2 linked regions of the Homo sapiens genome follow. The protein of the gene in region 1 purifies or fractionates together with the protein of each later gene. This does not show direct contact. Each region holds a gene or a part of one and is shown on either strand. Other genes may lie near its edges.

Evidence for each region.
Region 2: the proteins of PRMT7 (region 1) and REPS2 purify together in Homo sapiens (affinity purification with mass spectrometry; one large-scale study listed by BioGRID and IntAct). This does not show direct contact.

What each region holds. Positions count from the first base shown.
Region 1 is NC_000016.10:68,355,770-68,359,144, forward strand, and holds the end of PRMT7 (protein arginine N-methyltransferase 7), read left to right. Parts: coding exon 1-114; intron 115-260; exon of another isoform or gene 261-371; coding exon of another isoform or gene 372-441; exon of another isoform or gene 442-446; intron 447-931; coding exon 932-1,028; intron 1,029-1,284; coding exon 1,285-1,455; 3' UTR 1,456-2,001; coding exon of another isoform or gene 2,002-2,005; 3' UTR 2,006-2,024; coding exon of another isoform or gene 2,025-2,109; 3' UTR 2,110-2,815; downstream 2,816-3,375. UniProt on the Homo sapiens protein: Arginine methyltransferase that can both catalyze the formation of omega-N monomethylarginine (MMA) and symmetrical dimethylarginine (sDMA), with a preference for the formation of MMA.
Region 2 is NC_000023.11:17,131,558-17,135,366, reverse strand, and holds part of REPS2 (ralBP1-associated Eps domain-containing protein 2), read right to left. Parts: intron 2,527-3,809; exon of another isoform or gene 1,969-2,526; intron 1,544-1,968; coding exon 1,460-1,543; exon of another isoform or gene 1,459-1,459; intron 107-1,458; coding exon 1-106. UniProt on the Homo sapiens protein: Involved in ligand-dependent receptor mediated endocytosis of the EGF and insulin receptors as part of the Ral signaling pathway. By controlling growth factor receptors endocytosis may regulate cell survival.

The sequences.
Region 1 (3,375 bases):
GTGGGAGTACCCATGCCGCAGCCTCTCCGAGCCCTGGCAGATCCTGACCTTTGACTTCCAGCAGCCGGTGCCCCTGCAGCCCCTGTGTGCCGAGGGCACCGTGGAGCTCAGAAGGTGGGTGCAGAGAGGGCTGGGGGGCAGGGAGGGGCTGCTGCTTGCCCTTGGAGTTCTCACCCCCGTGGTGAGCACAGCTGGCCTGGGAGACGCTGACACGTGGAGGGGGTATTCGTCCTCCCCACAACCTTGCCCTTCCCTGTCAGAGTGGCCCTGCGCGTGTGGTGGTTCCCACGGTCCTGTGTGTGCCACTGGTGGAGGAGCCAGGAAGGGCTCTGCTCCCCCTCTACAGCTGAGGCTCCCTTGTTGGATCACAGCTCAGGAAGATGGGAGCTTACTTCCTGTGGTCACCGATGCACCATTTTCCTGAACCCTCCTGGGAGCTGAAGCAGGTCAGGGTCAGCAAGTGCTGCTTGCGTCCAGGGACGGGCAGCCCTGTCCTGCTCCGGCCCTCACCCCACCCTCGCCCGAGGAGTGACTTCTCCTGGAAGCACCTCCCAACTCGGGGCAGGCAGCCAGGCAGGGCGGGCGCCATCACCTGAGCTCCCAGGGTTGCTGTCTGGGGCATCAGAGGGGCCTTCCGGCCTTCAGTGCCAGGCTGTGCCTCAAGCTCCCCCAGACCCTGCAGCCACACCGGCCCTGCCCCATGTGTGGCCCGGCTGCAGGGCTCGGGTTGGCTCAGGTGGGGGCTTGGCTGCGGCTCTTCTGGCTGGGGTTTTTCTGAGGAACGTTTATGTAACTGCAGCACTAGGAACTCCCGGCAGGGCAGGAAGGAAGTGGGGAAGACCACAGGTTTCTGGAAAGCCGCAGGAGCTGCAGCTGTTCCCCCGCTGCCTCTTGTGTGACTACTTCTGCTGGGCCCCCCTCTCCTTGACAGGCCCGGGCAGAGCCACGCAGCGGTGCTATGGATGGAGTACCACCTGACCCCGGAGTGCACGCTCAGCACTGGCCTCCTGGAGCCTGCAGACCCCGAGGTAGTGCCTGCGCACCGGGCCCAGTGTGCGTGCAGACCCTGAGAGCAGGCGCCGCCTGGGGAGGCCTCCCTGCCCCCATGCTCTGGGTGTTTCTGTCACAAGTTCTTCGGGCCAGATGATGACCCCTCAGTGGTCCTGGGCCATCTGGCCCCTGAGCAGCTTCTCTCTGCTGCGAGCTGCCTGGGCTGGAGGCTGGCTAGGAAGGAGGCTCAGGTGCCAGGGAGCCCTCACCATCTTCCTGCTCTTCTTCCTACAGGGGGGCTGCTGCTGGAACCCCCACTGCAAGCAGGCCGTCTACTTCTTCAGCCCTGCCCCAGATCCCAGAGCACTGCTGGGTGGCCCACGGACTGTCAGCTATGCAGTGGAGTTTCACCCCGACACAGGCGACATCATCATGGAGTTCAGGCATGCAGATACCCCAGACTGACCACTCTTGAGCAATAAAGTGGCCTGAGGGCTGGGGTTCTGAGTGGCTCATGGCTTTCTAGCGGGGAAGGCTGAAGGCCCTCCTCTCCTCTCTGGGAGCTGCTCGGCCTCAGGGATGGGAAAGACTGCGCCGTGTTGCATCTTGTTGCATCTTTGCACTGCTGGCCTCTGGCTCCAGCTGTGGCAGGAAGCATGAGAGGGTGACTGAATTTGGAGCCCTGGAGGGGCTGGGAAGACCCCCCTGCTTGTGCTTCTGAGGTGCTGAGAATGCTCCAACACAGAGACATCTCTCCCCAGCTGGGAAGGGAGTGGAAGCACAGGGAGCTTGTGGGGCTGGCCGGTGGGGTTGTCCACGCCGCCCTTGGCGAGCAGTCCCCGTGGCGGGAGCCTGTCCTGTCTGTCTCACTCTCGAGGATCTCCGGGTCCCTGCTCTTCTGGCTTCTGCTAGGAGGGTGGAGATGCTGAGTTGTGGCTGGGTCTCTGGGGCTTGAAGACCCTGGCTGGGCCCGGGCTGAGAGGCCTGGGTTCTGGCCCTTTCACCTGACAGGTAACTTCAAGCCACATCCATAGGTGTCTGGCCTCAGTGCTGCACCAGCTGGTGGCCTGCCAGGACCTGAGACTGGACACAAGGCAGCTGTCCCAGAGCAGTTCCTGAGATGCAGGCCCAGGAAAGTGGCTGTCAGGGGAGCTGGGAGGCAGCCCTGTTCCCTGCACCTCCCTCAGATTGGAAAGCCCCTCCTGCAGGTGGGGTATGGCAGGGAGCAGCCCCTGCCCAGCGCCGCTTCACCAGGAAGGTCAGTAGGTGCCGTGGCCTTGCTTCTCTCACACACTAACCCCCCTTTGGTTATGTCCCAGCTCTCAGAGGTAACAGCAGACACCACGTGAGAGAACCCAGTGGCCTCTGGCTCGCAGCTTAGAAGGTGAGGCTTGTGCCAGGCCAGCCGAGCCGCCTGTATGAGCAGAGTTCCGGTGTCCTCGGATTCAGGGCAGACTTGGGCAGTGCCTGTCCTGCAGTTGGGGGCAGGAACTCCCTCCCCTGCCCCCAGGCGTGCCCCTGAGGCCTGGCCCCAGCTTGTCGCTGAAATAAGTGGAGAACACCAGCCTTGAGCCTCACAGTTTTATTTTCTCCTCGTTATCCATCCTTCCTTTCAGCACCAGTAAGGAAAAAGAACACCTCTCTTCGCAAAATATTTTATCAGGTGTAAAGACTTGTTTTTCTTCTAGGGAAGAACCGTCTGGATATATATTTGATAATGTTTTTACCAAAACCATAGGTGTGCTTACCATAGAAAACCCCTAATGTCCCATGAAGATACAATACAGAAAAAAATACAGAAATTAAAAAAGTTTTTATAACAGTATTTCTAAATCTCAGCAAGTTAAAAAGCAATAGTTAAAAAGCATCAAGATTAATATACTTAAAACTTAAGGTGGTTTTGGACAAATGAAAATGAACATTTCCTTCCTCAGTGGCCCCCGCGCCTTGTGGCTTCCTTTGAGACTGGGCCTAGGGCAGGAACAGAGTCTTGGTATGGGCCTCGGGTGACCCGTGTGCCCACCCCTGCTAGGCCTTAGATGCCACAGAATCTGAGATCCAGCAATGGTTCACTTTAAAAAATCAGTGGAAGGGCCTGGCCTGCACACAAGGCCCGGGAGTCCATAGGCAGCCACAATGAGACACGTGGGTGGGGGGGTCCCGGTCTTGGTGCTGAGGGAGGTGTGCGGGGGCCTGGGGGCCGCACATCCTTACTCTGGACCCCAGGACCTGACTAGGCAGAGGCGACCTTGTGATGACAGAAAATGACTTGCCTAAGGCCGCCTGTGAGGTGGGAGGGGAGGAGCATGCAGCCCTGACTCCCACGCCTGCTGCCCCGGGAGGGGGTGCCTGGGTGGGGAAGCTATGTTGGGGTCTGGTGTGGGG
Region 2 (3,809 bases), on another chromosome or scaffold:
CTGGCCCACTTGCAGCAGTGGAAGGCTCTTGGTTTTCTGTAGCTTGGTTTTCTGGTCTGAATTTCCTACGAATGGGCTTTGATGGTGGCTGAGAATACAGTACATCCTGTGGATTTAAAACAAAATAAAAATTAAAAAGTTAAACATTTCAATGTTCCCTCCACTCTTCCTTCCAGTGTCCCACATGCCTTTAGCCCCAACCCCAAGATCAGGAGGGTACTCTATTTACTGACCCATGGCTCAGCAAGAACTGGGGGGACACAGGCATCAGAGTCCAGTGGTCTTCCCTTTTTTCTTTTTCTTTTTAAATGTTTCAAGAAGTCTATTACTTCTTGTCACCTGAAACTCACACAGACCCTGTGTGCATCTCACACCATGGGGCCTTTCCTAACTGAAGACAAGATAGGCTCCTGCCTCACTTTGAAGCCTTTTAAACCTAAATTTTGGCCGGGCGCAGTGGCTCATGCCTGTAATCCCAGCACTTTGGGAGGCCGAGACGGTCGGATCACGAGGTCAGGAGATCGAGACCATCCTGGCTAACACGGTGAAACCCCGTCTCTACTAAAAATACAAAAAATTAGCCGGCCTGCTGGAAGATGCCTGTAGTCCCAGCTACTCGGAAGGCTGAGGCAGGAGAATGGCGTGAACCTGGGAGCTTGCAGTGAGCCGAGATCGCGCCACTGCACTCCAGCCTGGGCAACAAAGCGAGACTCTGTCTCAGGAAAAAAAAACAAAAACAAAAACAAAAAAAAACCTAAGCTTTGGAAGTTTTTAAAGGTCTTAGTCATATGCTCATCATTCTCCTATCCCCAATTCCTACATAAAGTCAAGAAAAAGAGCCACAGTGTATTCTGGAAGGACACAGTTGGTCTGCTTCTTTGGAGGACTCTACCTCACCTGTGCTCCTGAGCCCAAGGCCCACTCTCTCTGAAAGAAGAGCCTGGGAGAAGGACAAGAAGAGGGTGAGGAGATGAATGGAGAGCATGATGAGTGAGGGGTACTTACTGAGCAAATTACAGGTGACCCAATGGCATGGCTGGGCAGATGCCAGGTGAAAATGCCACGATGCAAGAGGAAACCATGGTACAAAGACCAAAAAGGAGAGACTACCCCACCCCAAGAGGTATTCACAGAGGCTTAGCAGGTGGATGGGGTTTTGCTAAAGACATCTGTCCCTCCCCACAGCCCTTTTAGCTCTTGCCATAAACAAGGCCACCATGTTTAGCTGGGGGGCTAAGGAGGTTGAGTATGTACTGTCATGTACAAAATGCATCAAGGGTCAAGCCCAGGAATCTTCAGGACCCCAATCTTCACAAAGAACCCACATTCTAGGAAATCTGGATCATTGACATTCATTTCAGGACACAGAAACCTTAAAACAATAGATCAGCTAATAGAGATAAGAAGCCCGGGGTGGGACTCGCAACGCCATCTGACAGCATCCTCAGGCTGACCTTACCTTCTTTGCTGGACTACTTTCTGCAGCCTGGGATGGGGCTCTGCTCAGCTGTGGGAGTAACTCGGCCTCCGACACTTGTTCAGACTGTAGCAAGAGATCAGAGAGAGGACAGAAATGCAAAACCACAATCACCTAAATATACAATAAAGAGCACTTAGGAAGATAGTCACCAAGGGAAAACTGATTTAGGCCAAGTTGCAGCCAAGAATGCTTAAGTCTGCTGATCCTTGGGAAAAACCTCCCATAGATGCTGCTATTAACCTTCCCATCCCTCCTTCCCAGATTGTTCAACCTTAGGAAAAGGAATCATGGGAATTTCTTCTGTAATTGAACATATGTATTGCTAAAAAACTAATGCTTCGCAACAACAAACTCTAAAAGTAACAAGGCTTATCGGAAAAACAGGGTTGAAAACAAAGATTTTAACTTGAGCACCAACAAAAACAATCAACATCATTAAAAACACTGAATTTTTTAAATGTTAAATTTCTAATAAAGAAATACTCTATGAGCAGTGTGAAGAAGAAGAGGTAAGAACTATCCCCCAGGCCAACCAAAGCCCACGCACTGCTGCATCCCCAGATCCAGCACCTACATTCCACTGCAGTCGCCTCCACCATGCCCAAGAGAAAGGCTGAAGGGGACGCTAAAGGAGATAAAACCAAAGTAAGGACAAACCACAGAGAAGATCTGCAAGGTTGTCTGCCAAACCTGCTCCTCCGAAGCCCAAGCCTAAAGAGGCCCCTGCAAAGAAGGGAGAGAAGGTAAAGGGGAAAAAGGAAAAAGCCCATGCTGGCAAGGAGGGGAATAACTCTGCAGAAAATGCAGAGGCCAAAACAGAGCAGGCACAGAAAGTTGAAGGCGCTGGGGATGCCAAGGGAAGTGTGTGCATTTTTGATAACTGTGTATTTCTGGTGACTGTGCAGTTTGAAGTATTATTTTTTTATTAAGTTTTATAAAAATGCAGAATTGTTTTTATGCCTTTATTTTAAGCCATGTTGTTAGCACACGGAACACGTCATTGTTGTTTTATGGAGAAGGGGTATATGTCACTAATAGAATGTCTCTGAGGCCAGGCACCGTGGCTCATGCCTGTAATCCCAGCACTTTGGGAGGCCGAAGCAGGCGGATCACCTGAGGTCAGGAGTTTGAGACCAGCCCGACCAACATGGCGAAACCCCGTCTCTACTAAAAGTACAAAAACTAGCCAGGCGTGATGATGGGTTCCTGTAATCCCAGCTACTCAGGAGGCTGAGGCAAGAGAATCACTTGAAGCCGGGAGGCGGAGGCTGCAGTGAGCCAAGATCGTGCCACTGCACTCCAACCTGGGCAACAAGAGCAAGACTTCGTCTCAGGAAAGAAAAAAAAGAAAAAGAATGTCTATGAAGCTGGACTGATGTGGAGAAAACACCTTTCCCTTCTAGTTTTAAAGACATCTTCTTGGCTCCCAGAAAGAGGGACTGTCTGACGTTGACACACACAGTCACCTTCGCACAAAGGCCTTGTGGTGTGGAGAAACAAATTCCTCTTTATTTCCCCCTCTCCCTCTCTGCCTTCAGTATACACTTAACTCCCTCAAACCCAGATACCTGTTGGGGTCTGGCCCCCAATAACTGGTTACCAGTCAGGCTGGCAATCTGGACTTTCCAGCGAGAACCCTTGAAAGACACGTGCTCTGTTTCTAGATTGTGGATCTTCAGATAAATTCTGCCATTTTCATTTCATTTCCTGAAAGTCAGGGTCAGCTCATGAAAAGTTGTTAAACAGCACGTTGAATGTGAAATGTCAACCCTCACTCTGAACTTTCCCTCTTCAGGGTACCAAATGAAGACTTCATTGGGTTTTACCATGGCTTTCTGATTTTGGAAGTCCATTGAAGGAGGGAGTCTGAAAGTTGTATACTGTTAATGATTGTCGCTCATGTCCTGCCTGAAATACCATGACTGTTCACAAAAAGTATCTTTAATAAACCTGGACACAGTTTGGGAAAAAAAAAAAAAAAAACTCTAGTAAATATGGCCCTTCTTAAAAAAGGAAGGGGGACTGTGGTCGAAGGAGTTATCAGAAGGGTCAAGGGTGCTGAGTGGAATGGAATCAGTGACTAAACTCACCAAGATTGGCAAGGAATGTCCCCAAAGCACTTCAAGACAGAGTGGGTGCCAATCAGTCAAGTGGAAGAACACAGGGTGACTGCGCCTCATGAGCAGCTCTCTATGTCCCCCATTTCCCCCAGTCTTCTGCCTTCAGGTGTGTTAGTCTGCTTTCAGCCACTAGTAGCCAGTGATGCCAAAACATTCATGTGCTGAGAATGAACCCTACATATGAACCAATGTGACTTCTACATCATACT